4 separate regions of the Homo sapiens genome follow, and all the other regions are linked to region 1. The links come from fine-mapping of genetic effects on gene expression. A gene starts in region 1. Each other region holds a variant in brackets. All regions are shown on one strand. Distances are from middle to middle. Region 1 holds the start of TAGLN (transgelin). Region 2 has its middle 6.6 kb from the start of LNC-RHL1. Region 3 has its middle 5.4 kb from the start of PAFAH1B2. Region 4 overlaps DSCAML1 (DS cell adhesion molecule like 1).

Evidence for each region. PIP is the estimated chance that this variant, and not a neighbour inherited with it, causes the effect.
Region 2: its variant is fine-mapped to the expression of TAGLN in whole blood (TOPMed, PIP above 0.99).
Region 3: its variant is fine-mapped to the expression of TAGLN in whole blood (TOPMed, PIP above 0.99).
Region 4: its variant is fine-mapped to the expression of TAGLN in naive CD4 T cells (Schmiedel 2018, PIP 0.91).

What each region holds. Positions count from the first base shown.
Region 1 is chr11:117,194,951-117,201,276 of GRCh38, reverse strand. It overlaps TAGLN (transgelin), which reads right to left and starts at 1,907. Exons shown (of 5, transcript NM_003186.5): 1 at 1,845-1,907. It overlaps SIDT2 (SID1 transmembrane family member 2), which reads right to left. Exons shown (of 26, transcript NM_001040455.2): 25 at 5,362-5,475; 26 at 3,835-5,273. The coding sequence ends at 5,211. LOC100652768 (a long non-coding RNA gene) reads left to right here. Exons shown (of 8, transcript NR_045215.1): 2 at 1,365-1,426; 3 at 2,489-2,540; 4 at 2,841-2,958; 5 at 3,370-3,491; 6 at 3,873-4,047; 7 at 4,131-4,269; 8 at 5,243-5,664. RefSeq lists a silencer at 2,990-3,284 and enhancers at 2,687-3,350, 4,683-5,182.
Region 2 is chr11:116,803,536-116,811,554 of GRCh38, reverse strand. No RefSeq gene overlaps it. Among named protein-coding and RNA genes, the nearest start is that of LNC-RHL1, 6.6 kb to the left of the region's middle. The variant A/G (reference allele first, on the strand shown) is at 4,532.
Region 3 is chr11:117,134,884-117,142,902 of GRCh38, reverse strand. It overlaps the pseudogene LOC653303. Among named protein-coding and RNA genes, the nearest start is that of PAFAH1B2, 5.4 kb to the left of the region's middle. RefSeq lists an enhancer at 4,289-5,174. The variant G/C (reference allele first, on the strand shown) is at 4,328.
Region 4 is chr11:117,508,961-117,516,979 of GRCh38, reverse strand. It overlaps DSCAML1 (DS cell adhesion molecule like 1), which reads left to right. Exons shown (of 33, transcript NM_020693.4): 8 at 241-513. Among named protein-coding and RNA genes, the nearest start is that of CEP164, 190 kb to the right of the region's middle. RefSeq lists enhancers at 1,225-1,824, 4,577-5,560. The variant A/G (reference allele first, on the strand shown) is at 3,245.

The sequences.
Region 1 (6,326 bases):
TCCTTATGTGTAAAGTGGGGGCAGGACCACTTCTGAGGACCCAGTTCTCTGAGCACTGGGGATGAGGTGGGCTCCTGGCCCAGCCACCCCTCTCCCTGCCAGTGATGCCAGAGACCCCAAAGGCAGAGTGCTCTGTTCTGCTGTTCAGCTACAAACAGCCAATCCCTCCCTTCACCCTGTGTGTCCCACCCCCGCTCCCCAACCACCCAAGGACTCCTGCACAAAGAACTGTGGTCCAAACCCCCAAGTCAGCTGGGACCAGGTGATTTTGGTAGCCCTGCATCCTGGCTTCCATCCACCCCAGCCTCTGTCTCAGCCTTTGCACCACCATCCCAGACAGGCATCCACCTTCTGTCTCTGGCCCTGCTTCTACCCCCACTCCACCTGCCCTCATGTCTGCCTTCCCCTTCTGCACCCCTGCTGGGCTCCTGAGGAACAGGATGGAAGGAGAGTGTGTCCCCTACCCCCAGCTTCCAGTCTCAGGAGGGTCAGAACAGACAATACAGGTCAAAGCAGCAAGGCTAAGGGTGACAGGTACACAACGCTGCAGCCCCCAGATCTAGAGACAAGATTAGGATTTCGGTCAGAGGGGGATGAAGCACACACCATCCCCACTCCCACCCAGCACCACCATCCTTCCCCTTCCTCCTCCTGGGTCAGGGTCGAAAAGTGGAGAATCCCCAGAAATCCTTTAGAGTCCTCTGATGAAGCCTCCCGAGTCCTGCCTTCGAGCCAGTGGGGAGGGGGAGAGGAGGATGATTACAGGGCGGCCCCCCCAGGGGCATCTCAAGACACTCCCAGGACAGCATGGACAGGCATGGACCCTCCTGCCCTGTGGCTCCTGCCAGGACCCCTCCCCTGAGCTGCCCAGTGGGTGAAAGTGGGCAGTGGAGAAAGAAAGTCCAGGGTCAAACGGGAAGGTGGCACCCCCTACCAGCAGAAGCCCAGAAACACGAGCAGAGCCAGGGGCCCCTGCAGGGCTGCTGTGCCCCTTCTCTCTTCCCAAATAGGAGTGAGCACACCTGGACCTCTGAGAGGGCAGGAGGGTGGCTCCTCTCCACTCCACGGACAAACAGGAGTGGCCTGGCTACATAAATGTGTGCCATCCTCACTGCTACCTTTGGAATAGCAACTTCGAAAGGGAACCACCCTTTGGGAAAGACCAAGGGTCCCAGGCCTGCCCCGCCTATCACTCCAAAGCTCCTCCTTGGCAGTACCCGCCCCCCACCCCTCTGCTACAGTGGGGGTGACCTCCCACTGTCAGACAGTGGAAGGGGCTGCTTGTCAGAAGGACAGGCCTTCCGTCTCCACTCTTTGCCCCTGACTGGAATACAAGAGTTCTGTGGCCCTTCACATTGTCACAGGGCTATCGCTGCTGCTCAGGCCCTGGGGACCCGCCAGAGTGGGACACCGTGCTCCAACACAGGTGCGTTCACACACTCCTCACCTCCTTGGAAGTTCTCCTGGAGGGGCAACAGACAGTAGAGCCTTGGCCTAACCGGCCGGCGCCTGCACCCTTACACACACCTTGTGGATGTGGCTGGCTGAGATGGGGAGCCTCCCTCTCACCCCGGTGGTTTCCATCAATTCCTCTGCACTAGCCAAGTCATCCGGGGCATTTCAATGAGCCCGGGGCTGCCCAGTCTGAGAGAGATCCAGGACGCTAGTGATCCAGCCCACCCTGCCTGGAGCTTGGGCCCCCATGCTGACTGAGAGGGTGGGTTTCCCTAGCCAGGGAGCTGGAGCTGGCGCCTGGGACCTCAGGAGAGCCTGCCTGAAATGCACCCACTGCTCCTGTCCAGCTCCAGCCCAACTTCCCTCCAAGCCCCAGCCAATGCACTCACAAGGCTTCCTCAGGGCTCGCAGGAAGGAGTGAAGACTTGTGTCTGGGTTCGGACAGACAGGATGGGGCGCTGGCTGGGTGAGGGGTTTAAAGGGCTGCCGCCGTGGTGATGTCAGCCTCCCCCACTGGCTCGCTCCTCGGCCCCCTCCCTGCTAGAGGAAGCCGGCTCCGCTCCCCACCCCCGGCTCCCCCAGTGACTCCACACAGGCTCCATATTTGGGGAAAGACACCAAGTTGGAGCAGTCTACCGGGGCTGCCGAGACATTCTCTGCATGCTTTGGAGATGGAGCGGGCCGGGGCGGGGCACGCTGCCGGCGGGGAGCCGGCCCGGGAAAAGCCTTTTATGGACAGGACCCTGCCCGGACTTACGGCTGCTCCTACTTCACTGTTCTCTGGCCCCGAGTTTGAGAAGAGGGGGAGTTCAATAGAGTCTGGCTGGAGAGAGGGGCAAGGGGCTGGGGAGCCGGGAATCCCAGGGGTTTGTGGGGACAAACCAGCCACCCTCTCCTCCTGGGGCTTTTAGCTCTGATGGGACATGGGATCCAACCTTTCCTGAGGACCTACTCCACACCAGGCCCTTTGCAGTGCTCTCATTGAATACTCACAGCTACAGTGTGAGGGTGTAATTACATCCCCATTTTATAGATGAGGAAACTGAGGCCCCGAGTGCGTCTTCCTCAAGGCCACATGGTGAATGGTAAGTGGCAGATCCTGCACACCTCTGCCAACCCGCATGGGTGCAGGAGAGGTGGTCAGACCCACCCTTTCAATTGGACCACCCTGCTCAGGTTGAGAAGAGCTTTCAGTGCAGGTAGGTCTTGAGTTATATGCTTTAGTTGGGGCTGGGATTTGAGGGTTCGGCAGAAGCTGAGTCCAACTCCGGTCCCCATCCAGTGGGCAGTGTCAATAAGAGGGTCTATAAGGCCTGGCAGGGCCTGAGACACTAACGCAGGAGAAGGAGGCTCAGGAGGCTGGTATCATCCCTTCCTCCCTTTAGGAACAGTCCCTACCAGCCTGGAAAACAGACCAGCCTCTGTCACTCCAGAGATAACCCACTCTCATCTTGCTCGTACCTGGCTTCAGGGATCTTGGGGAGAGATAAGAGGTTAAAAAAGGTGAGACTAACAGTGGGATCCCTGGACTGACTGCTGTGGCACTCCCCTGCAAGGGCATCTGGTAGGGAAGACCTAACACTCTCCACTACACACACACTGCCACACCCGGCACCACCCCTAGCCAAACAAGGCCCTAGGAGGGGGCTGCCAGGCCTGGCAGAGGAGGGGCCCGCCTCCGCAGTTCTGCCCACTGCAACTGGACATGCTCCAGAGCCCAGGGGAGGCACAGCCATAGCACCTCCCAGTGGCGCCTGCAGGAAAAGCAGGAAGAGGAGTGGGCCCTGGCGAGGGGAAAGCCCACTCCTCCATCCCTGACCCTGCAGACCTCTGGTTGTGTTCTGAATTCAACAGATTCCTTGGCCCCCAAATCATGTCCTCCTTAGCCGACTGAAGTCTAAATGAATCTTTCAGGGACATATCAAAACTCCCTCCTCTTGGAGCCTGCCCAGCTTTCATCACCCTCCTGCCTCGGCCTGCACGCTGAGCGGATTATAAACGCCGCATCAGGGAGCACTGCTTGGGCCTGTGGCTTGGTGAGCTGGGGGCCGCTCAGGTCAGAGGTGAAGTGAGCCTCAGTCTGGTGGGCGGGGCCAGGTGGGCAGAGACTGCTGTTCCTGGGGAGGTAAGGAGGGATGTCTGCAGTGGGATGGCGTGGGAAAGGCTTTTCCAGGAACTGGCCTCTGTCCAGCACAGTGCCCCGGTAAATGTTTACTGAATTAATGCTGTTGCTGGAGGGACAGGAAAAACGGGAGAATCAAGGAATTGCAGTTCCCAGTAGGGCCATGGCTTGAAGAATGGGGAAATGGAAGACCTCCGCCTCTCCCCTCATCCTCAACAGCTCCACCCAGAGGGAGTGCAAACAAGGGCCCCAAGAACTGAGTCTGGTTGTTTATTGAATGCAAATTCATTCATAGAAAACGGAAATGCAACCATAGCATGGAGACGCTCTGAGAAAAGATCCAGACCCACCTCATCTCCCAGCCCTTCAAGCAGAGCTATAAAAACAAGTTTGGGAGAAAAACACATTCCCATCCCCAAAGCAGAGGCCCCGCCTGAGCTCCCCCATCCTCAGCATCTGGGGTGGACCAGGTGGGACGAAGGGGATCCAAGGACCAGGGTGGCCAGGGTGCCCAGAGCTGGGGCAATTCTTTGTAAACTCCAAGGTTTCATAGGTATGTGTGTGCATGACTAACACAGAACTTGCCTGAAGACTGGACGGAAACTTAGAAGCCAGCCCTGGGTCCTAGAGCGAGGCTAGGACTGGGCACGTAGAGGGAAACAGCACATCCCTTCCTGAAGCCCCTTTCTAAGGTAGGCACTGGGGTGCCCACAGCTGTGGAGGCAGAACGGGCTGAACTCTGTATCATCCCTCCTTTGCCCCTGGACATTCTTGGGCAGTGTCAATGGCACTGAAAGGCCACCAGCTGGGGTTTGGCAAGACTAAGGGCCTGGAAAGAAGGAAGGGAAGGGGTGAGGCGCTTCTCCCTCCAGTCCTGGTGCTGGCATCAGTCTGGGAGCTGATGGGATGAAGAGGTGACCTCTGAATTCAGCCTCTTGAATCAGAAGGCGGTTCTCAAATTGGGCTGAGCGCATTGCTAAAGAGCCAGCCCTGAGCACAGGTCAGAGGGAAGAGAATACGCACTGCCCCAGGCCCCTTGCAGGCCTTAGCACCAAAAGTCTGGCACCAGCTGGCCAACCCCCAAAATCTCATACCCCCATCCATCCTGGCTGACTGGAATGGGCAGTGATGGCAGCCAGGGACAGCCCAAAGAGAACTGGGGCCCTGATACAGGACAGAGATTCAGGCCCCAGACTAGGCCCTGGAGTGGGAGTATGGGAGGAAAAAGAGGCCTTAGGTCCCAGGCTGGGGCATTGTGGGGAGGAGGACGGGCAAAATGCAAGGCATGAAATGGGGAGGGTGTCCCTTCCATCCTTCCTCTTGCAAAGGGACAAATGGAGAGCCAAAGGACAGGGGCCCATGGAAGGCCCCAACACTGAGAAGAAAGCAGCAATTTGGCCAACATCTGGGGGTTCCAGGGGAGCAGGCCTGCTCCTCGGCAGAGGGCAGCTGCAAGGTTCCATGCCACCCCATGGCTGTCCCAGGCCAAGCCTAAGCTAGACCTGGCTGTCCTGCTGCCATCCAGTGCTGGGCAGCGGTGCTGGGACTCATCCCCACAGCACGACAGAGTGACCGGTCTATGACACAAAGGAGCTCAGGGCCCCTTGAGGTGAAGCGAAGGGCCCAGCTCCTGCTAGAAGACATAGATCTTGTCCCGCTGCACAGTATCCAGGTCGTCATCCAGTGTCAGCAACACCTGGGGTGTGGACGCCAGATCAGCCACAGAGAAGGAGGCAGCTGCTACCTTCACGTACCCACCCGGCTCGGCCGGGAGGCCCGCTTACCAGGAAGGACCCGAACATGGCGATGGAGGAGAGGAAGTGCCAGATGTCGTGGTCGTCAAAGAAGTCGAGGAGGATGCAGTCCCGGTTGTGCTCCCTCGACTCTGCAGGGGTTTTCTTGGGGAGCAACAAGAAAAACTGCCGAATGACCCTGCTCTGGCAGGGCAAGGGCCAGACCCATCTGCCATCTTGCTCCTGGGCACCCCTCTCTCCAGCCCCAGGCAGGACAGCAGCAATTCTGACCTGTCCCTTGTCCTTGTCCCTACCCCTTCCCGATCTAACAAATGGCCTTTGGTTACAAACTTCTCCCTGAGTTCACTGGCTTCTCTTCCCTTTTCTTTCACTCTTACCCTCCTCCTTCCTTCTGATTCTCTTCCCTTGACCTAAGAGCACAGGGTTGCAACAACCTTGAAGGCCTTCAGCTCAGAGATGGCAGAAGGCCTTCTCACCCACTTCCCGGCCTTGGACTCCGCCCTTGCTCTAATCTTTCTGCAGGCTCATTGTTTTTTCCAAAGCACTACTGTCAGGTTACACACCTGCTCCGGGACAGTAGCCATAACCTGTGGCACTCAAGGTCCTCCCTGCTCTACTCATAAGCTCTATCCCATAAGCTCATCCAGGCTGTGTCTGTCTGTGCTACATGCTGAGGCCACAGACATAACCAAGACCTGCCCCACCCTCAGGGAGCTCACAGTCTGCCTGGCTCCCAAATGAGTGCATTCACTGACCTCCAAATCTGCCCCTGTATCATTACTAAGGTCACAGTAGGTCTGGGCCATGGGGCTCTTCTCCATTACCCAAGACTTTTTTTTTTTTTTTTTTTTTTTTTTTTTGAGACAGAGTCTTGCTCTGTTGACAGGCTGGAGTGCAGTGGAGAGATCTCAGCTCACTGCAACCTCCACCTCCCGGGTCCAAGCCGTTCTCCTGCCTCTGCCTCCCGAGTAGCTGGGACTACAGGCGCCCACCAT
Region 2 (8,019 bases), 390 kb after region 1:
TATGAATGTCACTGCAGGGTGATCCACTGAGATGTTTAGCTGGGGAACCCCATTGTGAAAATCTTTGGGTCTTACCTCTTGAGCTGGACATATTCCCCTAAGAAATGTCTTTCACTCTTCTGCCTGGAGGGTAAAGGCCTGAATACAGTGTCCCTGGGGCCAAGTGGAAGAAGCAGGAGGGTGATTCAGCATTTCAGAGGGTATACTTTGATTTAATCCTCTTGCTAGTACAGGTCTCCTGCCCTCAACTCTGCCTGACGTTCAAGAGAATAAACTTCCAGTCTTCTACTAAGGTGAGACAGGGAAGCTAAAGCTCTAACTGCTCCTTAAATAGTTTCAACCAATCTTTCATGTTTTATGACAGCCTCCTCCGTCACCTCTACTTTCAGTAGAAACTGGTGTCCCAATTCAGGACAGTCATATATGGCTGTGCAAGCTGTGCACTGTATCATTCTGAGGCCACCTCCCTCACAGGGTAGACATGACAGATTTGTATATTTATCATGTCAAATTTCTGGCAGACGGCTGTAGAGTGTCTTGAGAAAGGGGAGGCTGTTTCTATTGCACACACAGGTGCAGCGTGGGCTGGCAGGAGCCCTACTATCATCTCTTCGCCTTTTGAGAATCCAGCGGTGTAAGTCAGGCTGGAACTCATCTTTTCTCACTGCCAGCTCATGACCAGCATTCCCAAGGCCGGCTAAATCAGTCACAACTGGTCCATTTGCTTTCTAACATCCAAAATTGTGCTGTGGTCTTTTCTTCCTTTTCCCGATCCCGTCTCTTTTTTTTTTTTTTTTTTTTTTGTTTTTTGAGACAGGGTCTCACTCTGTCGCCCAGGCTGGAGTTCAGTGGCACAATCAGGGCTCACGGCAGCTTCTACCTCCCAGGCTCAAGTGATCCTCACACCTCAGCCCCCTGAGTAGCTGGAACTACAGGTCTGCCATGCCTGGCTGATTTTTTGTATTTTTTCAGTAGAGACAGGGTTTCGCCATGTTGCCCAGGCTAGTCTCAAACTCCTGGACTCAAGCGATCTGCCCACCTTGGCCTCCCAAAGTGCTAGGATTACAGGCATAAGCCACAGTGCCTGGCTACATCTTTTCCCAAACATTTCTTCATTATAGTTTCAGGAGGATTTCAGGAAAAAAAAGTGAAATTAGATGCATGCATTCAATCTTCAATGTTTGTCTGGAAGTCTATACAAGTAGCATTGACAGAAGATTGCTGAAAGCTTTATGGTACATTCATTCCTTTGGAGTCTAAGCCATTGGTTCCAACCTCCCCAGGAAGTCTCCAGTGTTATGGAAAAGGGTTTGTGAACAGGAATGTACTTGGACAGAAAATGTTCTTCCCTTCAAAAATGTATCTTAAGGCCAGGTGAGGTGGCTCACGCCTGTAATCCCAGCACTTTGGGAGGCCGAGGCAGGCGATTGCCTGAGGTCAGGAGTTGGCGACCAGCCTGGCCAACATGGCGAAACTCTGTCTCTACTAAAAATACAAAATTAGCTGGGCTTGGTGGCTTGTGCCTGTATCCCAGCTACTTAAGAGGCTGAGGCAGGAGAATTGTTTGAACCTGGGAGGTGGAGGTTGCAGTAAGCCGAGATTGTGCCACTGCACTCTTGCCTGGGTGACAGAGCAAGACTCCGTCTCAAAAATAAATAAATAAATACACAAATAATAAGAAAAAAATTATCTTAAGAAAATGATCATGGAATGCATGCATTTAGCTATGTGGATGTTCATCACAGTGTTGTTTATAATAAAAAATTAAAACAAGCCAGGCACGGTGGCTCATGCCTGTAATTCCAGGACTTTGGGAGGCTGCGGTGGGCGGGTCACTTGAGGTCAGTAGTTCAAGAGCCTGGCAAACATGGTGAAACCCTGTCTCGCGTGTGACAGTCTCTACTAAAAATACAAAAATTAGCCAGGCATGGTGGTTCATGCCTGTAGTCCCAGCTATTCAGGAAGCTGAATCAGGAGAATGGCTTGAACCTCAGGAGGTGAAGGCTGCAGTGAGCCAAGATTGCACCACTGCACTCCAGCCTTGGTGACGGAATGAGACTCCATTTCAAGAAAAAATAAAAAATAAAAATAAAAGAAAGAAGGAAAAAAAATATGTAATTGACTGAATCCCTCTCTTCGCGGGTTTTCACGAAACCCAAAACCAATGGTGAAGATCTGGCAACCTTGTCATCTGTTAGTGCTTCTATGATTGTGCTCTTCATCGGGTCATGATTTTCTGCGATTATTTCTATTTTCCCCATCCTGTGGTCCTCTCTGCAAGCCCCTCTCTTTTATTACCATTTCAATTTTCATTTTCTGTAGCCTCAAATCTTTGGTGATGAAGAGGAGTACATATAAACAAAACCCAAACAAATAATAATGAAAATCTTTATCTGGAGTTGGCACACCATCACTATGTTGACTCAGAATGTGTTCGGTACATTTTGTGGCACTCAAGTCCACGTCACTGGTCCCACCCAGCTGTTGCACCACCGGCAGGCATTTTTGACACAAACATCTAGCAGTGGGGCATTTCTCGACCTGATGGATCATGGTCTGCGCAGGGTAAACAGGTTGTAGTGGCAAGCCTGAGGACCCGAGGACCTGCTGTCCTGGCTATCACTCAGAACTGGTTCTGCCTATGCAGGAGACAGGAGAAGAGGGAAACTGAGGGGGTTATGTTCGTGCTGAGACAAGGCATGGTGGGACAAGGAACGAGAGGTGATGACTTGGCAGCTGTGCCTCGGCTTGGCTGTTCTTTCCCTGGCTGGCCTTGAGTTACTGTTCTTGTACCCAGATCAGTTAACACATGGACCTGGTACCCCTATATTCCATCAGGCCTCTTTCTCCCAAATCCTAAACCCCCTGGGGTAAGGGGAAGAGCACCTGGCTTTTTACTTAGGACGGTGTTTTCTCCCAGTAGTTAAGTGTTGAGGCTCTTTGTGGTATGGGTCTGGTCTTAGGAGCAAAGTCCTCTCTTTGCTCCCAAGCAGGAGACAGTGTACTGAGCATGGACTTTGGAGTTAGATAGACCTGGAATTGGCCCAGGGCAAGACCTTGGGCAAGAATCTCTCTGAACTCCAGTTTCTCTGTAAATAAAATGAGGATAACAATTCCTACCTTAGAGTATTGACTTGAGCGTTACAGATAAGAAAGGTAAATACTGGGCACAAGGTAGGTCCATAGAGAGCTCATTGTCATTAAATCTTTTCAAACCCAACTGGGCCAGATTCTGGAAGGCAGAGAGCCTTGTGGGCGTGCCCAGGCTGCTTCCCACCCCAACGCGCTAGCCACACTGAGCCCTGCATCATTTCCCCAACCCACTAGATGAGGGTTTGTGTCTTATTCTCTCCAAGATGTGGCAGGGTGCCTGGCACACAATATGTGTCCCACCTCTCTGAGTCCCAACCAGGTTGGCCTCAGTGCCAATTGCTGCCTTCATCAGCTTTAGAGATGTGCGATGCATCATTGATCTCTCTTCTGAACCCGCCATGCCTCACACTTCTGTCAGCCCTGGTCATAGCCCAAAACATAAGGCTCTCTAGCAAGGTCACGGCCTCCCACCCCACTCTTCTTCCTGCATTGTTCTTTGCTTATTCTCTCTATCCAACATCCCGAGAACTATTCCCTCCCAGTTTTCCCACTGCCTCTGGAACACACTCCTCTGCATCTTCAGCCTTCCTAGGTGCCTCCTTCCACTTCCTGTCCTCAACTGGGCTTGGCCTTGGCTCAGGCTGCCCTGCTCCCTGGCTTCCCCTCGGTCCTCCTGCATGGAGGCTGCTGACTCTCAGGTGGGGATGCTGTTCTTTCCATATCAAGTTTGCTGACTTGTTCTTATATTTTTTTTCTGTGATTCCATCAGTTTGAGGAAATGGTATTAAAATCTCCTACCAAATTTGTCAAGTTCTCTTTGGGACTCAGTGGCTTTTTGCTTTACGTATTTTGAGACTATGTTGTCAGGTTCAGAATTGTTTTATCTTCCCAGTGAATTTATTCTTCTTCTTCTTTTTTCTTTTTTTTTGAGACAGAGTCTTATTCTGTCACCCAGGCTGGAGTGCAGTGGTGCGATCTCAGTTCACTGCAACCTCTGCCTCCCCGGTTCAAATGATTTTCCTGCCTCAGCCTCCTGAGTAGCTGGGACTACAGGCATGCACCACCACACCCGGATAATTTTTTGTATTTTTAGTAGAGACAGGGTTTCACCACTTTGGTCAGGCTGGTCTCAAACTCCTGACCTTGTGATCCATCCCCCTGCCCCGGCCTCCCAAAGCGCTGGGATTACAGGTGTGAGCCACCACGCCCAGCCAAATTTCTTCTTTGATCATTAAATAATGATCTGCTTTATCCCTATCAATCCTATCTATCCCTATCAATCCAAATAAGCAAAGCTTATTTGTTCTGATGTTACATTGCATACCTGCTTTCTTTTGATTACTATTGGTCTGGTATGTCTTCTTAAATTCCTTCCCTGGCTCCACTTTTTAACCTTTCTCTGACATTATATTTTAGGTATGCCTCTTATAAATTGCAA[A/G]TAAGTAGAGTTTTTATAAAATCCAATCTGAAAACAACAACAATAGTAAACTGATGTAGCACCTACTGTGTCAAGCATGTTTGTGTGCTTTTTAACCTACAGTAATAAAGCATTATTTCCCACAAGCCCTATGAGGCAAGTATTATCATTATTCCCCTTTTACAGAGTTTGAGGCTGGGTGCAGTGGCTCATGCCTGTAATCCCAGCACTTTGGGAGGCCAAGGCGGGAGGATCACTTGAGCTCAGGAGTCTGAGACCAGCCTAGGCAATATAGTGAGACCCAATCGCTACAAAAAATTTAAAAATTAGCTTGGCAGGGTGGCACATGTCTGTGTTCCCAGGGACTCAGGAGACTGAGGTGAGAGGATCGCGTGGGCCCAGGAGGTGGAGGCTGCAGTAAGTTGTGATTGGTGATTGCACCACTGCACCCAGCCTGAGTGACAGAGTGAGACTCTGTCTCAAAAAAAAAAACGAAAGAAAGAAAACAAAAGAAAGAAATGGAATCACAGAGAAGTTAATTTGCCAAAGGTCACAGAACCAATAAGTGGCAGGACTTCGACCCAGCGGACTAGTCCCAGAGACAATGCCTTGTGGGCTCACTTAATCTATTTAATTTGATAGTGATTACTGTTTTATTTATGTCATATTATTTTGTATTTTCATTTTACTATGATATTTCTTTGCTTCTTGTATCTTCCTGCTTGCTTCTCTGTTGGTTTTGTGTTCCTTTAAAGACTAATTTCACACCTTTTAAAAAATTCAGTTAAAAAGTTCAAACTGCACATAAAGAGTCAAACAGAGCCAGGTGTGGTGACTTATGTCTGTAACCCCAGCACTTTGGGAGGTCGAGACAGGGGGATCACTTGAGGCCAGGGGTTTGAGAGCAGCCCGGGCTACATAGCAAGGCTTCATCTCTCCAAAAAATTGTTTTTTAAAAAAGAGTCAAACAGATCTACAAGTTAGTTTAAAATAGCAGCAGTATCTCAACCCCCACCTCTATTTTTCACTCTACAAAAACAACTACTGTCAACTGTTTTTTTGTTTCGTTTTGTTTTGTTTTTTTTTGAGACAGAGTCTCACTCTGTCACCCAGCCTGGAGTGCAGTGGTACAATCTTAGCTCACTGCAACCTCTGCCTCTCAGGTTCAAGCGATTCTTCTGCCTCAGCCTCCCATGTAGCTAGGATTACAGGCATGTGCCACCATGCCCGGCTAATTTTTGTATTTTAAGTAGAGACAGGGTTTTACCATGTTGGCCAGGTTGGTCTCGAACTCCTGACCTCAGGTGATCCACCCTCCTCGGCCTCCCAAAGTGCTAGGATTATAGGCCACCGTGCCCGTCTGACATTGCCTCTTTAGAAAGAAGTGCAGTTCATCTTCACTGATGAGGGAGCTTTTCTTCATAGAATAACATCAGCTGAAATATATAAAAGAAATAGTAGAATTAGAACATTCTCATTCTGCAACTCTTCTAATGTAATAATTAATTCAGGCAAAAATCTTGAATGTATGCTATGTTCATCAGGTTGCCAAGGTATTTTAAGATGCCAAAGTATCCCAATTCTGTTACTTGTTAATTACAAAGGGAAATAACCTATCTTTCCAACCAAGAGGTCTGCTAGTGACCACCTCACGAAGTGAAAAAACTAAGGATTGCTATTAGTGGGACAAGTAGCCATTGTGTACCTCCTGATATGACATCATGTGAACTTCTCACTTCACCTTTAAGTATTCTTAGCCAGGCACAGTGGCACATGCTTGAAATCCCAGCACTTTGGGAGGCTGAGGCAGGGGGATCGCTTGAGGCCAGGATTTCAAGACCAGCCTGAGCAACATGTCAAGACCCCCACCTCTACAAAAAATTAAAAAGTTAGCCAGGTGTGGTGGTCATGCCTGTAGCCCCAGCTACTTAGGAGGCTGAGGTGGGAGGATCACTTGAGCCCAGGAGTTTGAGGCTGCAGTGAGCTATGATCACACCACTGCACTCCAGCTGGATGACAGAGCAAGACCCTGTCTCAAAAAACAAAACAAAACAAAAAACACCGAAAAAACCCCACAGTAAATTAGAAGAAAGCTGCATAAATTAGAAGAAGCTGATGTGAAATCCTGAGTCCATGGTTCAATTTAGGAGGGACCATCTGGAGAGCAGGGAACCCCCAAAAGTCAGTTTCTTTAGGCCTATTTCCTTGGGCCAGCCAAATTTCTCAGGGAGAATGTTGTTCCATTTTCAATATGGGGAAAGATGGTGAACTGAGGAGTCTTTTAAAAAAATTTATTTTTGAGATGGGGTCTCATTCTGTCGCCCAGGCTAGAGAGCAGTAGCATGATCATGGCTCACTGCGGTCTCTAACTCGTGGGCTCAAGTAATCCTTCTGCCTCAGCCTCCTGAGTAGCTAGGACCACAGGTGCCACCATACCTGGCTAATTTTTGTATTCTTTGCAGAGACTGGGTCTCGCTACATTGCCCAGGCTGGTATCGAACTCCTGGGCTCAAGCGATCCTCCTGCCTTGCCTTCTCAAAGTGTTGGGATTACAGGCATGAGCCACTGTGCCCAGCCTCAAAATTTAATGTATAAAGTTTTCCTTAATTTTTCTTAGCACAAAAACCCTGGCCCCCAACAATACCTAGTTTTCTCCAGGCCGGAGTCCCACTCTTTTACCCTTTTCAGAGAGAATAAGCATCTGGTTTTCTGCTGCTTTGGGGGTACCCAGCCAAGTAGAGTTGAAGAGAACAGCTGCTTCTCAAACAGACTCTCGACCAACTGCCATATTTCTAGTCCCACTGCCACCCACTCTTCCAGAAGAATGTTGACACTAATGTCAGAGCATTTGGAGAGTTTAGTAGTGAAAATCAGGGGCCTTCTTGGCTTTCTCCACTGCTGCTTCAAAATTCATGTCAGGTGTGCCTGTCACCACCGTTTGATCATTTGGAAGCTTTCCAGCTTCCCAAATGTTGTTATTTTTGTCTCCTTTTCTATTTTCCCTTTGGGTTTATGCATTTTGTAAAAAGTGCACTTCAATGCCACGTTATTGAGATTTCAGAGAACAGCAGAGGCTAATGCATGCAATTAATCCACCGTCCGTTACTAGAAGTCAATCGGATGCTCTTTAGTCTCTCTTCCCCATATACTAGTTTAAAAGTTATCCATTCTTTCTATTCGTTTTATGGGTTATCCTTAAAATTTTAATATTCTTGTCTGACCTAACAAAGTCTATAGATAATCAATATCCCTATCTTCCTCCCGAATAATGCAAAGGCTGCTGAATGCTTTCACTTTGATCTCTCCTTTCCCATTTCCAGGTTGCTTCGGTCTGATATTTTAGTTCCTCATTACTTTTAACACCTCCTCCAAAGTAGTCCCTTCATCAATAGATGTTTTTGAGCCCTCCCTACCATGTGATAAGCACTGGTCTAGGCACTGGGAGTACAGTAGGAAATGAGATAAACTTGGCCAGGTGTAGGGTGGCTTACACCTGTAATCCCAACACT
Region 3 (8,019 bases), 59 kb after region 1:
CTAGATCCTTGAGGAATCGCCACACTGTCTTTCACAATGGTTGAATTAATTTACACTCCCTCCAACAGTGTAAAAGTGTTCCTCTTTCTCCACATCCTCTCCAGCATCTGTTGTTTCCTGACTTTTTAATGATCGCCATTCTAACTGGCATGAGATGGTATCTCATTGTGGTTTTGATTTGCATTTCTCTGATGACCAGTGATGATGAGCATTTTTTCATGTGTCTGTTGGTTGCATAAATGTCTTCTTTTGAGAAGTGTCTGTTCATATCCTTTGCCCACTTTTTGATGGGGTTGTTTGTTTTTTTTCTTGTAAATTTGTTTAAGTTCTTTGTAGATTCTGGATATTAGCCCTTTGTCAGATGGGTAGATTGCAAAAATTTTCTCCCATTCTGTAGGTTGCCTGTTCGCTCTGATGGTAGTTTCTTTTGCCATGCAGAAGCTCTTTAGTTTAATTATATCCCATTTGTCTATTCTGGCTTTTGTTGCCATTGCTTGTGGTGTTTTAGTCAGGAAGTCTTTGCCCATGCCTATGTCCTGAATGGTATTGCCTATGTTTTCTTCTAGGGTTTTTATGGTTTTAGGTCTAACATTTAAGTCTTTACTCCATCTTGAATTAATTTTTGTATAAGGTGTAAGGAAGGGATCCAGTTTCAGCTTTCTACATATGGCTAGCCAGTTTTCCTGGCACCATTTATTAAATAGGGAATCCTTTCCCCATTTCTTGTTTTTGTCAATTTGTCAAAGAGCAGATGGTTGTAGATGTGTGGTGTTATTTCTGAGGCCTCTGTTCTGTTCTGTTGGTCTATATATCTGTTTTGGTGCTAGTACCATGCCGTTTTGGTTACTGTAGCCTTGTAGTATAGTTTGAAGTCAGGTAGCGTGGTGCCTCCAGCTTTGTTCTTTTTGCTTAGGATTGTCTTGGCAATGCGGGCTCTTTTTTGGTTCCATATGAAGTTTAAAGTAGTTTTTTCCAATTCTGTGAAGAAAGTCTTTGGTAGCTTGATGGGGATGGCATTGAATCTATAAATTACCTTGGGCAGTATGGCCATTTTCACAATACTGATTCTTCCTATCCATGAGCATGGAATGTTCTTCCATTTGTTTGTGTCCTCTTTTATTTCACTGAGCAGTGGTTTGTAGTTCTCCTTGACGAGGTCCTTCACATCCCTTGTAAGTTGGATTCCTAGGTATTTTATTCTCTTTGTAGCAATTGTGAATGGGAGTTCACTCATGATTTGGCTCTCTGTTATTGTCTGTTATTGGTGTATAGGAGTGCTTGTGATTTTTGCACATTGATTTTGTATCCTGAGACTTTGCTGAAGTTGCTTATCAGCTTAAGGAGATCTTGGGCTGAGACAATGGGGTTTTCTAAATATACAATCATGTCATCTGCAAACAGGGAAAATTTGACTTCCTCTTTTCCTAATTGAATACCCTTTATTTCTTTCTCTTGCCTGATTGCCCTGGCCAGAACCTCCAACACTATGTTGAATAGGAGTGGTGAGAGAGGGCATCCTTGTCTTGTGCTGGTTTTCAAAGGGAATGCTTCCCGTTTTTGCCCATTCAGTATGATATTGGCTGTGGGTTTGTCATAAATAGCTCTTACTATTTTGAGATACGTTCCATCAATACCTAGTTTATTGCGAGCTTTTAGCATGAAGGGCTGCTGAATTTTGTCGAAGGCCTTTTCTGCATTGATATAATCATGTGGTTTTTGTCATTGGTTTTGTTTATGTGATGGATTACGTTTATCAATTTGTGTATGTTGAACCAGCCTTGCATCCCAGGGATGAACCCAACTTGATTGTGGTGGATAAGCTTTTTGATGTGCCACTGGATTCGGTTTGCCAGTATTTTATTGAGAATTTTCACATCAATGTTCATCAGGCGTATTGGCCTAAAATTCTCTTTTTTGTTATGTCTCTGCCGGGCATTAGTATCAGGATGATGCTGGCCTCATAAAATGAGTTAGGGAGTCTCTTTTTTTCTATTGATTGGAATAGTTTCAGAAGGAATGGTACCAGCTCCTCTTTGTAGCTCTAATAGAATTCGGCTGTGAATCTGTCTGGTCCTGGATTTTTTTTTGGTTGGTAGGCTATTAATTATTGTCTCAATTTCAGAGCCTGTTATTGGTCTATTCAGAGATTCAACTTCTTCCTGGTTTAGTCTTGGGAAGGTGTATGTGTCCAGGAATTTATCCATTTCTTCTAGATTTTCTAGTTTATTTGCGTAGAGGTGTTTATATCATTCTCTGGCGGTAGTTTGTATTTTTGTGGGATTGGTGGTGATATCCCCTTTATCATCTTTTATTGCATCTATTTGATTATTCTCTCTTTTCTTCTTTATTAGTCTTGCCAGCGGTCTATCAATTTTGTTGATCTTTTCAAAACACCAGCTCCTGGATTCATTGATTTTTTGAAGGGTTTTTTGTGTCTCTATCTCCTTCAGTTCTGCTCTGATCTTAGTTATTTCTTGCCTTCTGCTAGCTTTTGAATGTATTTGCTCTTGCTTCTCTAGTTCTTTTAATTGTGATGTTAGGGTGTTGATTTTAGATCTTTCCTGCCTTCTCTTGTGGGCATTTAGTGCTGTAAATTTCCCTCTATGCACTGCTTTAAATATGTCCCAGAGATTCTGGTACGTTGTGTCTTTGTTCTCATTGCTTTCAAAGAACATCATTATTTCTGCCTTCATTTTATTATTTACCCAGTAGTCATTCAGGAGCAGGTTGTTCAGTTTCCATGTAATTGTGCGGTTTTGAGTGAGTTTCTTAATCCTGAGTTCTAATTTGATTGCACTGTGGTCTGAGAGACAGTTTGTTGTGATTTATGTTATTTTACATTTGCTGAAGAGTGCTTTACTTCCAATTATGTGGTCCATTTTAGAATAAGTGTGATGTGGTGCTGAGAAGAGTGTATATTCTGTTGATTTGGGGTGGAGAGTTCTGTAGATGTCTATTAGGTCTGCTTGGTGCAGAGCTGAGTTCAAGTCCTGGATATCCTTGTTAACCTTCTGTCTTGTTGATCTGTTTAATATTGTATGTCAAGTAATTTTTCAAGTAACTTGTGCTGTCAAGTGGCACTAAGTGTGTATTACTTTAGGCATATATAATCCAAGATAATTTTGTCCTCATATAAAATGATGTTTACATTGCGAATTTACCTTGGAATTCTCTTGGAGCTGCTCACACAGTATACGGCATACCTGTAGGTGCTCAGTAAATATTTGTTGTTCTGAGGGTTTTCTTAGAAAGAATTCACGTTTAGAGAACTCAAATGATGGTATTAAAGAGGCAGCCCAGCCAGGAGCGGTGGCTCACACCTGTAATCCCAGCACTTTGGGAGGCCAAGGCTGGCGGATCACCTGAGGTCCAGAGTTTGAGACCAGCCTGACCAACATGGAGAAACTACGTCTGTTCTAAAAATACAACATTAGCTGGGCGTGGTGGCACATGCCTGTAATCCCAGCTACTTCGGAGGTTGAGGCAGGAGAATCGTTTGAACCTGGAAGGCAAAAGTTGCAGTGAGCCGAGATCCACCATTGCTCTCCAGCCTAAGCAAGAAGAGCGAAACTTCACCTCAAAAAAAAAGAGGCGCCCGGGCGCAGTGGCTCACGCAAGTAATTCCAGCACTTTGGGAGGCCAAGGTGGGCAGATCAAGAGGTCAGATCAAGAGGAGATTGAGACTGTCCTGGCTAACACGGTGAAACCCCGTCTCTACTAAAAAATACAAAAAATTAGCCAGGCGTTGTGGCGGGTGCCTGTAGTCCCAGCTACTCTGGAGGCTGAGGCAGGAGAATGGCACGAACCCGGGAGGCGGAGCTTGCAGTAAGCCGAGATCACGCCACTGCACTCCAGCCTGGGCGACAGAGTGAGACTCCATCTCAAAAAAAAAAAAAAAAATGACACAGAACACAAAAGCTTGCCCAAGATCACGCCACTGCACTCCAGCCTGGGGGACAGATCGAGACTATGTCTCAAAAAAAAAAAAAAAAAAAAAGAGAGGCAGCCCATTTCCAGGCGGATAGTGTTAAGGGGAAAAAAAAAGAGGATGGAGGCCAACCCAAAGGGGGCGCCAATCCCCTGTCCAACACCTTCTCACCAAAAGCTCCCGTTTGGCTGGAGGCAGACCCTGTGGCTCTGACCAGACTTCTCTGGCAGCAATCCTCCGCCATTTGTATCTTAAGAAGGCCCTCACCCTCTTTGAGTGGAGTCAGAGGATGCCTCAGATTCCAGATGTAAGCATCAGAACTGCTTTCTGTCAAGAGCTCCCTAATTTTGGGAAAGAAGAGCCTGTCCCACACTGTCAGGCCCTGAGGTCAGCAGATCT[G/C]CTCCTCCTTCCCGTGCGGTACGTCTAGGTGCTGATGAGGGCAGTCCAGGGCGCTCTTGTTCTGGGACAGGCTCCAGTCCCCTTGCTCCAGCAGGTCTGGGGCAAGGAGGTCAGAGGTGGTGGGAGGGCCCCTGCTCTCTGTTTCCACTTCGTCTGGATCCTTGCTGCTGCAAAGTGGCACTGATTCTAGCTCTGTCCCTTCCTCCTTGGCTTTCTGGCTTCGATAGGGCCAGTGGCAGGGTCCACTCATACAAACTTGATTGGAAGCCACATTCCTCTGGTTCACATATACTTCCAGCATGTAGTAAACGGTCCAGAAGACGGTGAAACAGCCTACCAGCACCAAGGTCTGGGGCCGAGGCAAGCACCTACGTGAGGCACTGTTTCCCGAAGCCTACAGCCTTTCTCAGTCCAGGACAATGAGCTCAGAAAGTCTTTTTCCTTCTAGGGACTGCCTTTTTCACCCAAACTGTTCCCTCTGCCCCCTCCCCCGACAAGGCCTGTCCTGTAAGAGTTAGGCTAGCAGGGTAGGAGCAATGCTATGAAACCACTGCTGGGACCCAGGTCTTCCCAGTCCTTCACCCCGCAGGTCACCCTGAGAAACACACTAAGAACTCCATCCCCCAGACAGGACAGTCCCATCTACCCGCAGCTTGAGTCTTGGCCCTAGTACCTTGAGGGTGTTGGGGGTGATGGTGTAACCATCTTCCTCAGGAATTTTCAGCCCCGGTGGGCAGGGCAGGGCGAAGTCATCGTGCAGGTATTTTCCACTCATGGCACTCTCTAACAGCCTGTGGAGAAGAAAAGAGGTGAGGATGCCCCACTGACTATGGTTCCTATACCATCTGCCCTCACCCATTTTCCTGCCTTACAGGTGAAGACAGGGAAGCCCCACAGCAAAAAGGAGAGGCCCAGACTGTGAGTTCCCAGCCCGGGGCTCCATCTACCAGCTTGACGCTGGAACTGGGAAGCACAGCTGGGGTTCAGAGGGCGATGGGCTCCCTAGGCAGCCCTTCCCCTGTGACTGGCCTTCCCTCTGACACATGCGGCTTTACCCACCTTTGTCTGTCCCTGATGTCTACTGCACTCCACACAGAGCCATATAGGGTCAGCTGCCATTGCCGGAGGATGCCGACCTGGAATGACTCATCCCCTAGGGCAGCAAGGGGCAGCTCGTGAGCCACGCCCCTCTGTCAGCCATGCCAGACAGCAGAGGCCCTGCCCGCCCTGCCACCCAAAGGGGCTCAGGCCACATGGTCTGCTCCAGGAGCTGCCTCACTGTGTCCCACTGACCCCAGGTTCTGCAGAAGGGCCTCACTGGGTGCCCTTAGGGATGGAAAGGGTTGAAAGGCTGTACTCCAAAGCAGAGTCTTGCTTTTCTCTCCCGTATTTTGGGGGTTCAGCTGGGATTAGAAAAAAATGTCTTTCCACCAAATTAAAGAAAGCTTTGAAAACCACTGGCCTAGAGAATACCTAACTGACTGGAGGATGGGAGGGTGGAGCTCAATTTCCAGTCTATAGGCTGATACTAAAGATATTCACAATTCATGGATATTGTGGCCTTCACTGATATGGTGACCTTCCACAAGTCACCTCAAACCTCTGGGCCAGTTTAAAAAAAATGGTGAAATGAGTCCTGCCCTTACCTGCCTACCGGGGCTTGCCGAAGGATGGTTATACGTAAAAGGACTTGAAATGTGGTTTCGACAAGGACTTTTTGTTGCTATCCTGAGGAAAGATGGATGGGTCACTCCTCCAGGGAATATGAGAGGTAGTATAAATGAACAGTTTCAGAGAGCAATGCCCATTTCACGGATGGGCACACTCTTGGCATCAACTCTCTTGGTCCAATGGCAACCCTATATATTGCACACGGGACACTTTCTGTGGGGACTCTGAGATGCAGAGGGACCAGATAACAAGCAGGAAAGGTAGGGCCTGGTGTGAGGGCACGAGACTCACCGACATCCCTGATGACAAGCCTGTAGGTCCCTCGGGCTCTCTCCCCCCAGCATCGCACAGTGGAGAAGGTCCAGTCATTGAAGCCGTTGGGATCCCTGAGGAAAGAACACAGCAGAAACAGGTGGAAGGCGTGGGCCAGAGAGCTGACCTTCCCCCAGCAACACTTTCTTACTGTAGTAGCCGTGGAAACAACCTGGGAGGGTGCCACGAGGGCTTCTCAGGTGCCCCTTTCCCCTGGGGTCTCATGGAAGGAGGAAATTGTGTTAACGTGGTGTGGTGGAAAAAGCAAGCATGGAGCGCGCACAGGCTTGGAGTCCCACGGATCTAGGTTTATTCTTGTTCTCTTGGGCACTTACTAGCTCCATGACTTGTTTTCTTTTTCTTTCTTTTTTTTTTTGGAGACAGGGTCTCACTCTGTTATCCAAGCTGGAGTGCAGTGGCATGATCACAGCTCACTGCAGCCTTGACTTCCTGGGTTCAAGTGATCCTCCCACCTCAGTCTCCTGAGTAGCTGGGACTACAGGCATGTACCACCATGCTCGGCTAATCTTTAAATTTTTTGTAGAGACAGGGTCTCACTTTGTTGCCCAGGCTGGTCTTGAACTCCTGAGTTCAAGTGATTCTCCTGCCTTGACCTCCCAAAGTGCTGGGATTACAGGTGTGAGCCACCACACCCAGCCAGTTTCCTCATTTGTAAAAGGAGGTTACAAAGTCTAATCTAGGGGGTTCTTAGAAGGATTAGAGAACATGTATGTGAGGTGCAGGGCCTAGCGCTTGAAGAAGGTATGTGACGAAAGGCTTCCAGCCGCCAGGGATAGCCAGTGCCACAGTAGTTTAGGACAGTGCCAGGATCCACTTCTTCCATTTCTTTTCCCTGGAAAGGCCCTTGCTGAAAAGGTTGCTCAGGCCTCGGGCAGGTGTACATACGAGTCCATGCTGCCGGGGGTGCCGATGAGGGACATCATGCCTCTGGGGCAGAACAGCTTCAGCTCCAAGCTGCCGCGCCGTGGGTGAGTGATGGAGACTGTCACTGCCACATGCTCCAGGGTCTTCAGCCCTGACATCTCCAGGTCCATCCTGCTGACTGTAGAAAGTCAGGCTGGGCAGCTGGGAAACCAGCCCACAAACACGCCTTCACTTCACCCCCACGTACACAAAGACACACGCTCACTGAAGCCACATACAAACATCTACGGCAACCCTAACTGGGACCTCGCCTATACTAGTAAATGGAATGGAGCTGCTGCTCTCAAGTTTACAACGTAGCTTCGAGTGCAGTTGGGAAGACGACACATACCCAAGACACAATATAAGAATCCAGCAGAGCAACTTCAATCATTCATTCATCCAAAACATTATTTACTGGGTACCTCCTCCATTTCAGGCACTGTACTAGATGCTGGGAATATAAAGATAAGATGGGCGTGGTCCCTGTCTCCTACCTGCAAGTGGAAAATGATATGGTATGGGAAATATACATAATTGATAAGGGAAGAGAAATAAGTCAGATGGGTTTAGGCACACAGCAGTGAGACACACTGAAGGAAATGAATACAGATTGGTAGAGAGGGTTGGTAGAGGGCATTCTAGGCAGTGGAAAAGGCATGAACAAAGACAAAATGCACACATCTCACTGAAGATGATGCACAATTAATTTTTTTTTAATGCTGGTGGATAAATTTCAAGCAAATTATGTGAGTGAAAAAAGCAATCTCAAAAGAAGCATATAG
Region 4 (8,019 bases), 310 kb before region 1:
TTTGCAACTCTTTGAAGCTAGTAACAGTGAGTCCTGGAGAGACTGTGGGCACCCCCCAATTCCAGCCCCTGTCTGTAGCTTTGTAAAAAGGCATCCCTGTGCCCCCACCAAATGTCCGCCCCCGAAAGTCTCAGGGGCCGAGTGCCTGAGAAGAGCACCGCAGGGTGGTGCCTGGCTGTCCCTGGCTGACAGCAGCACATGCCCTTCTCCTCCTCCTCCTCTCTTCTGACTCCTGCCCAGGCCCACCCAGCATCCGGGCTATGCGGAACATCACAGCAGTCGCCGGGCGGGACACCCTTATCAACTGCAGGGTCATCGGCTATCCCTACTACTCCATCAAGTGGTACAAGGATGCCCTGCTGCTGCCAGACAACCACCGCCAGGTGGTGTTTGAGAATGGGACCCTCAAGCTGACTGACGTGCAGAAGGGCATGGATGAGGGGGAGTACCTGTGCAGTGTCCTCATCCAGCCCCAGCTCTCCATCAGCCAGAGCGTTCACGTAGCCGTCAAAGGTAGGCCTCCCTCACCAGCCAGGGCCCCTGCCCGCCTGACCACCCAGGATGCGTGGGCCTTTCCCCAGCTGGGACTCAGACAACAATAGGCAATCCTGGGTGAACGGAAGGCTGAGCAAGAGAGGCCCCAGCTTGGCATTCAGAAAAAAGGGAGCAGGGCAGAAGACTGTGGGTGGACGCAGGCCATGAGCTCCTCTACATCCGGGGTCCTCCTCGGGCTGCAGAATAAGACAGCACACACCCCAGGTGCATGAGAGGGTGAGTTACAGATAAAGGAGGCAGGCTGCCTTCTGGGAGAGAGGCCAGGTCAGAGATGGGCTGCATGGGGCCTCTGCTGTTGGGATGGAGCCCCCAGGAGCTCAGCGGGCCCACACAAGGAGGCCACAAGCAACAGGAGGCCAGGGTTGACAGAGCACGCTGGGAGCCCTGACCCCCTGTGGGATACACAGTACCCAGGCTGCTTCTACAGGACTGGGAACACCCTTCCACCTGCTAGTACTGCTTGAGGCCTGGAAAGTGCTGTGTGGTGCTTAAAAGCCTCCTCCCTCAGGCCGGGCACAGTGGCTCACGTTGTAATCCCAGCACTTTGGGAGGCCGAGGCGGGTGGATCATGAGGTCAGGAGTTTGAGACCAGCCTGGCCCAAATGATGAAACCCCGTCTCTACTAAAAATTCAAAAATTAGCCGGGCGTGGTGGTAGGTGCCTGTAATCCCAGCTACTTGGGAGGCTGAGGCAGGATAATTGCTTGAACCTGGGAGGCAGAGGTTGCAGTGAGCCGAGATTGAGCCATTGCACTCCAGCCTGGGCAACAAGAGTTGAAACTCTGTCTCAAAAAAAAAAAAAAAAAAAAAAAAAAGCTTCGTCCCTCCTGGGCCCTTGACATCCACCTGGGTGAGGTCTTTGTTTCATGCCTGGTCCTGGGTAGCCGCTCACTAAGTCTGTGGATCAAATGAATGAGTGAATATAAATGTTCAAATACATGAGCATGTGAGTCAATGACAATGTCTCCTTGGTTCTGGGGCTGCGAAGGTCTTCGAAACCCCCAAATACATTCTTTGGGACTGACAGACCTGGAGACTGTCTGGATGGTGTGTGACAGGAGGGTGGCCTGGTTTCTCTGGGGCCAGGCTGGGGAGGTGGATACCCCCAGGCTTGACTAAGGAGAAGCCTGTGAAAACCAGGCTACAGGGGTTGGGTACTGAGTCAGCCACGGCTGTGATGGCTGAAGAGCTTATGTCTCTTCGTGAAGAGCCAGGATGGGCTCAGGCCTGGGGAGGATAAGTGGACAGGCTGTCCTCTGCAGCCTGAGGCTACAGAAGCATGAAGACCTCAGCCTGGGGCTCCGCCTGGGAGGAAGGGAGGTCTGGGGGTCTCCAGCCACCATCCTGGGCTATCGCAGCAGGCTGCGATGGTTATAATGATCTGCCACTGTCACTGCGGCAGGCGCACTGTGTGCCTCTCACATTGCTCCATGCTCCACGTGCAGTGCCATCTTCGACCCCACAGCTGCCCACTCAGCTAAGGCAGGTAACATTTCCTCCCCAGTTTTCGGGGCAGAAAGTGGAGGCATAGAAAAGTTAAGAAAGGCCGGGTGCAGTGGCCCACGCCTGTAATCCCAGCACTTTGGGAAGCCGAGGTAGGCGGATCACCTGAGGTCAGGAGTTTGAGACCAGCCTGACCAATGTGGAGAAACCCTGTCTCTAGTAAAAATACAAAATTAGCAGAGCGTGGTGGCACATGCCTGTAATACCAGCTACTTGGGAGGCAGAAGCAGGAGAATAACTTGAACCTGGGAGGTGGAGGTTGCAGTGAGCTTAGATCGTGCCATTGCACTCCAGCCTAGGCAACAAGAGTGAAACTCCATCTCAAAAAAAAAAAAAAAAAAAAAAAAAAAGAAAAAGAAAAGAAAAGTTAAGTAAATTGCCATCTGGTGTCAGAATCTTTCCCAGGTCTGCATAACTCCAGAACCTGGGCTCCAACCGAGAATGGCCCCGAGCCAGGGAAAGGACAGGCTGGAGGGAGGACCGTTTGCTCCATGCTCTGCCTTAGGAATAAAGACATAGAGCTTCTGGGACTGCCAGGGAGGGTGTGGAAGAGACAAGAGTCCTTGAGAACTCTGAGGGCCCTGTCACCTGGGGGCTTCCCTCTCCTGAGCATCTGTGTCACAACCCAGGGCAGTGGGGAGGGGAAGCTGGGGAGAACCCCCTTTGTATCCCCAAGGGAAGAGAGGGAGGAATAGCGTTGACCAGGGGAGGAGAGCTAGCAGGAGGCCCATGGAAGGAAGAAAAAGAGAAGAGGGGTCCAGGCCTGGGAAGGGGCTCTGGCATGGGGGGAAGGCCCTGGGGACCCCCTGGCTGCTGCTTTGCCCAAGACTGGAAGCAACATGGAACACACACACTATCGGCAGCAAGAGGGACATATGGGAAGAGGAAGGGTTTGTGGAGGACCCTCAAGCATGTGATATCACTGGACATCCGGTGGAAGGGCCTGGTGGCCAGCTGGAAGGACTGAACGTGGCAGTGGAAGGCTGGGTGGAGACTTCTCCCCCAGCTCCTGCCATCAGTGCACAGGAGCCGAGTCACAAGCCTGTGTGCCCAACACCCATCACAGTGCCAGACAGTGTGTGCTTTGAACTGAAACTGAGACATTAGGCTGAGTTGGAGTGACTTACTAGGAAACCTCACTTTGAGCCCAGGAAAATGGACTTTTTTTTTTTTTTTTTTTTTGAGAT[A/G]GAGTCTTGCTCTGTCACCCAGGTTGCAGTGCAGTGGCGTGATCTCAGCTCACTACAACCTCCTCCTCCTGGTTTCAAGCAATTCTCCTGTCTCAGCCTCCTGAGTAGCTGGGACTACAGGCGCACGCCACCACGCCCAGCTAATTTTTGTATTTTTAGTAGAGATGGGATTTCACCATATTGGTCAGGCTGGTCTCGGACTCCTGACCTCAGGTGATCCACACACCTTGGCCTCCCAAAGTGCTGGGATTACAGGCATGAGCCACCGCTCCCGGATGAAAGTGGACTGTCAAAGTCTACTTTGAGAACTTACTAGGAAACCTCACCGTGGCCATCTGAGGTCTGGGAGGAGAGAGGAGACCCTCACAGCCAAACACCCATTTCCCTGCTGTTGCGAGGGAGCCATGTGGAAGGGCATCCTGGCCACTTTCTCTGCCCAGCCCAGGGGCCTTGCCGTACCACCAGGGACCTAACAACCCCCAGCCCACATCCCCGCCCCTGTCATCTGGGACAAATCAGCTTGGTGGCTGTGTACACAGCTCAACCTGCCTCCTTTAAGCAGCATCACGGGCCGGGCCGCCTGTATCCATTTCCCTTACAAGCAGTGGACCGAGAGTTTAAGTGTAAACATCACATATTAAAACATCTAACCTTTGCTCCACTCCCTGCGCCAGCCCTCACTGGCAAGCATTTGGTCGGGTTTGTTGGCTTAAAAAAAATAATAACGGGTGCAGCGGGCCTCAGAGGACTCGGAACGTCCTGAAAGCTGCTTCTGCTCATCAATTATTCAGCCCCATTCAGGGAGTGATCAGTCCTAATGAATTGAATCTGATGCATTCCGTCTCGGCGACTCGCTGGGCCTGTTGTGATGGTGCTGAGCGACAGTGTCTCTGCAGCCCAGGGAGAGGGAGGGAAGTGGGGGGAAGGGGAGGGGTGTGTGTGTGTGTGTGTGTGTGTGTGTGTGTGTGTGTGTGATCCTAGAGGACAGAGCCCATGCCTTGGCCACGTGTGAGTCCCCAGCACCCAGCATAAGCTGTGCATAGCAGGCATGTGTGTGTGTGTGTGTGTGTGTGTGTGTGTGTGTGTGTGTGTACACACGCTTGCATGCACACCTTCCCCCTTCCCCACCCTCAGGGTCTGAAAAAATCCCAGAAATCCAGCCCTGAGGCGGGTGTAGTCACCTGTTTTCTCTCTGGACCAAGAAGCAGCATGGGTGTGAGGGGCTCTGGGACGTGCCCCCACCACTCCAAAAGCTCAGGCCCCCTCATCCCCATTTTTTCCCTGACTCCCTCTCCCACCTCATTAGAATGCGCTTTTGCAGAAGAACCATCAGAGCTGATTATGATCACGCTGCTTGATTAGCGGATGCGCTGTTCCAAGAACTACCCAAGGAGGGGGGTGGAGGAGGTGCCCGTGGGCATGGCGGGGGCCCTGACTTGGAGGGGGAGAAGGGTGTGGGCCTGGGGGCAGCTCTCCAGACCCCACTGCTGCTGCCCGACTAGGAAGTGCATCCCACTCAAGGTTCAGAGCAGAGAGCTAGAAAGTAGAAAAGGGCAAGTTGCGGGGGCAGGGATGGTGGGGACAGAGCACCGGAAGTGTGAGATAAAACTGGAAGTCTCCCACCCCAGCTCTCTGTGGGGCCAAGGGTCAGTGGGCAGGGTGGGGCTGAAACCCATGCTGCTCCATGAGCCGGAAAAACAACTGCTGACTCCATTCCTTCTGGGACTGCTTGTCTTCTAACGAATTTTTCTAACACTAAGCTGCGAACAGCAGCACACGCCCAACATGCCTGCACATGTGTGCAGAGACCTGTGTGTGAGCACTCGTGCGTGTGCACCCTGGTACGTATTGCATGCACGTGCAGCCAATTAACACATTAGCCCATTCACACTTGAGCACACATACGTAAACATGCATGCCAGCAGTTACACATACGCAAGTGTGTTGTCCACCAGGGCCCTCCCGTAAGGCAACATTCCTGAGCCCAAAAAGTGGCTGCAGGTGGGACCATATGAAATATTGCCCAAGGGAGCCTGCTGTGTTCCAGTAAAGTGGGAGGAGCAGAGAGGAGAGAGGGTGGAGGGTGCTTTGAAGGCTGTGTGTGCCTTGGCATATGTGACACTGGCTGGCAGTGGAGAGCCAGGCTGCAGGGATGGCTGGTATTTGTCTCTGGTCATCCGGAGAAATCCTTGGCAGGATGCTAAGAGGAGAGCACACAGATCAAACCTAGATTTGGTGACTTTAGGGCCACCTGTAGCTGAAAAATAATGTAGCACAAAAGCATCTCTGGGCATGCAGGCTGAATGTTTAATTAACTAGGAAGGCAGGGCTGCAACTGGGGCCCCTTTGCATTGGCTCCGTGAAGAAACATCTCCATTCCTACATCTGAGCTTCCGAGGGCTTCTTGAGCCAAAACAAGGCCAAGAGGTGCTTTCTGCCCATGCTCAGCAGGACCAGGACAGGGAGGTGGTGCCAGGCTTCTGTGGAGGACAAGTGGAAGAGGGACATACTCACCCACACACAAACACCCTCTCTCCCAAATGCCCATGTTCCCTCCTCCCTCCCTAATTTTTCCCTAGCTGTTCAATGCTGAGCTTCAGCACTGCTCCACCCAGCCTCTGCCGTATGCCTGGGAGCATGTGCCAGAGACCCTCTCCCACCCTAACGAGTAGGTTGGGGGTTTCTATGATGATAAGCTTAAGGGAGAGTCAGCCACCTGGCCAAGTGCCTGCTACTGGTGAAGGTGGAGATTTGGGAGGAACCTCACTGGGATCCACAGGAAAGGGGCACAGCAGGCTCCCTAGGAGGAGATGGCCTGCATGCCATTTGGGGGAGGAACACCAAGGAAGCCACTGCCAACAACCTTACTTCCTCAGCCAAGGGAGCCAGTAACAAAGGAGGAAGCAAACTCCCGTGGGACAGACAGGGCTCATGACGATGGTAGTGGTGATGAGGATAATGACCACGAATGTCATTCATTCAGTGACATCTACTGTGCCTCCACTAGATTCCAGGCACTATTTTAGGTTCTATGAATACAGCTATGCTCAAAATAGACAAAAATCCCTGCCATCAGGGAGTTTACATTTTAGTGAGGAAAGGGATCCTACGGTAAATACCCCAGAGATGTCTCCTGTCAAACAGGAGAGAGGCTGAGAGTGCCAAGGAGACGGGGTTTGCAATTTCAAATAAGGCGATCTGGGATGGGCTTCCTGAGAAGAGAGGGTTGTGTAAAAACTTAAGTCAGCTGTCATTATTCCCAAAATATGGGACTTGTTTTAACTAGAAAATCAGTGTCTGACTTTAGTGATTAGTTGGTTCAACCGCTCCATTTTGCAGATGAGAAAACTGAGGTTAGACTGGATGGTGATGAGGAGGTGCCTTGCCCACAGTCACTTAAATGGGTAGCAGAGTCTGGAACCGGGTGTTTTGGGTTCCAGGCATGGCTAGTGCCCCATCTCCGTGCTGCAAGGGCAAAGAAGCCCAGACTTCCCACGGCGCACACTCTGCTAGCAGGTGCAGTAAATAAAAGGCTCCATCTCAAAGAGAGATGATGAGAGACACCATTAAATGTTTCTGAGCTGGGCTGGTGGTCAGCACGCCTTCCTCTGTGCAGCACTCCCAAACAAGTGGCCATAAAAGCTTTATGGTGACTGGACACTGAATGGCCTGCCTCGACCACTGTGTCTTCTCAGCCACTCAGGCCTCTGCCTCTTCACCATTGCAGCACCTTGCTAAAGATGACTGTGGCCAGAGCAGGGCTTCTGGGGAGAAAGCCCTGGGTTGTGAGGCATTCATGCCCCCTACATCCAGCTGCCTGCTAGGGACACGCTGGGACTCGGGGGCAGATCTGTAGGCTGGACTCCACAGTAAAGAGGGCCCAGGTCATCACCAGGGTGCAGGGGGTCAGACCCCACCTCCGGGAGGATGGCTTTCCCAGAAATGGAAATGGCCAGGCACACATGCAGCTACTAGCCCTGAGCACTGGAGAGGGCGCCGCTGACTCACAGGTCAGAAGGCAAGCCCCATTTGGACAGCCATGTACATATATGGAGGAGTCCCCACCCTGCTTTGGAGACCCCACTCACAGCACTCCTAGTACCGAATGAGCTGGTGGAGGAGCCATGATCCCTGGGCTCTCTTCCCCCTCCAGGCTGCCCGGTGTGTGTATTGACCGGATGTGAGTGGCTAGCCTGGAGTACCAGCCATGCATCGCACCTGCCCATCCCCCAGAAGCAGGGTTGGAGAGGAGCGAGGAGCCTGCCTTGGGCCTCTGGGAGGTCATCTGGTCATCTGCCTCCCAACAGCCCTCTGGGAGCGCGGGACCAGCCCAGCTGCATGTTTAACTCCCCAGGATGGATGTTGGCTACTTCTTCTTCAGTGGCCTCTCGGAGCTGTTGATGTTATTCAGAAGACCAGAAGGAATGACAGCCCCTTGGCTCAGCCTCCTCCGTCTCCTTCACCCCATGTATTGTTTGAAAGCATGTGTGTCCTTTAACTCTCAGCTCAAATTCCACTCCTCCATGAAGCTGCAGTCACCCCCAGCCGATGGCATCGCCCTCTGCTTGAGCTCAGCATCTGTATATCCAGGCGGTCCTTGTCTAATCATCTTTGGGGAAGTATCTTGCCTTCCCTAGTAAACGAGAAGCTCCCCGAGGCTCCGTCTGTAGCTGAAGTGTGTTTCTACTTTCCCCAGCCCACACGGAGCATAATGCCTTCACAGAGGAGCATTTCATAAATATTAGATGAATTAGTTAATTAATGAATTAACCTGC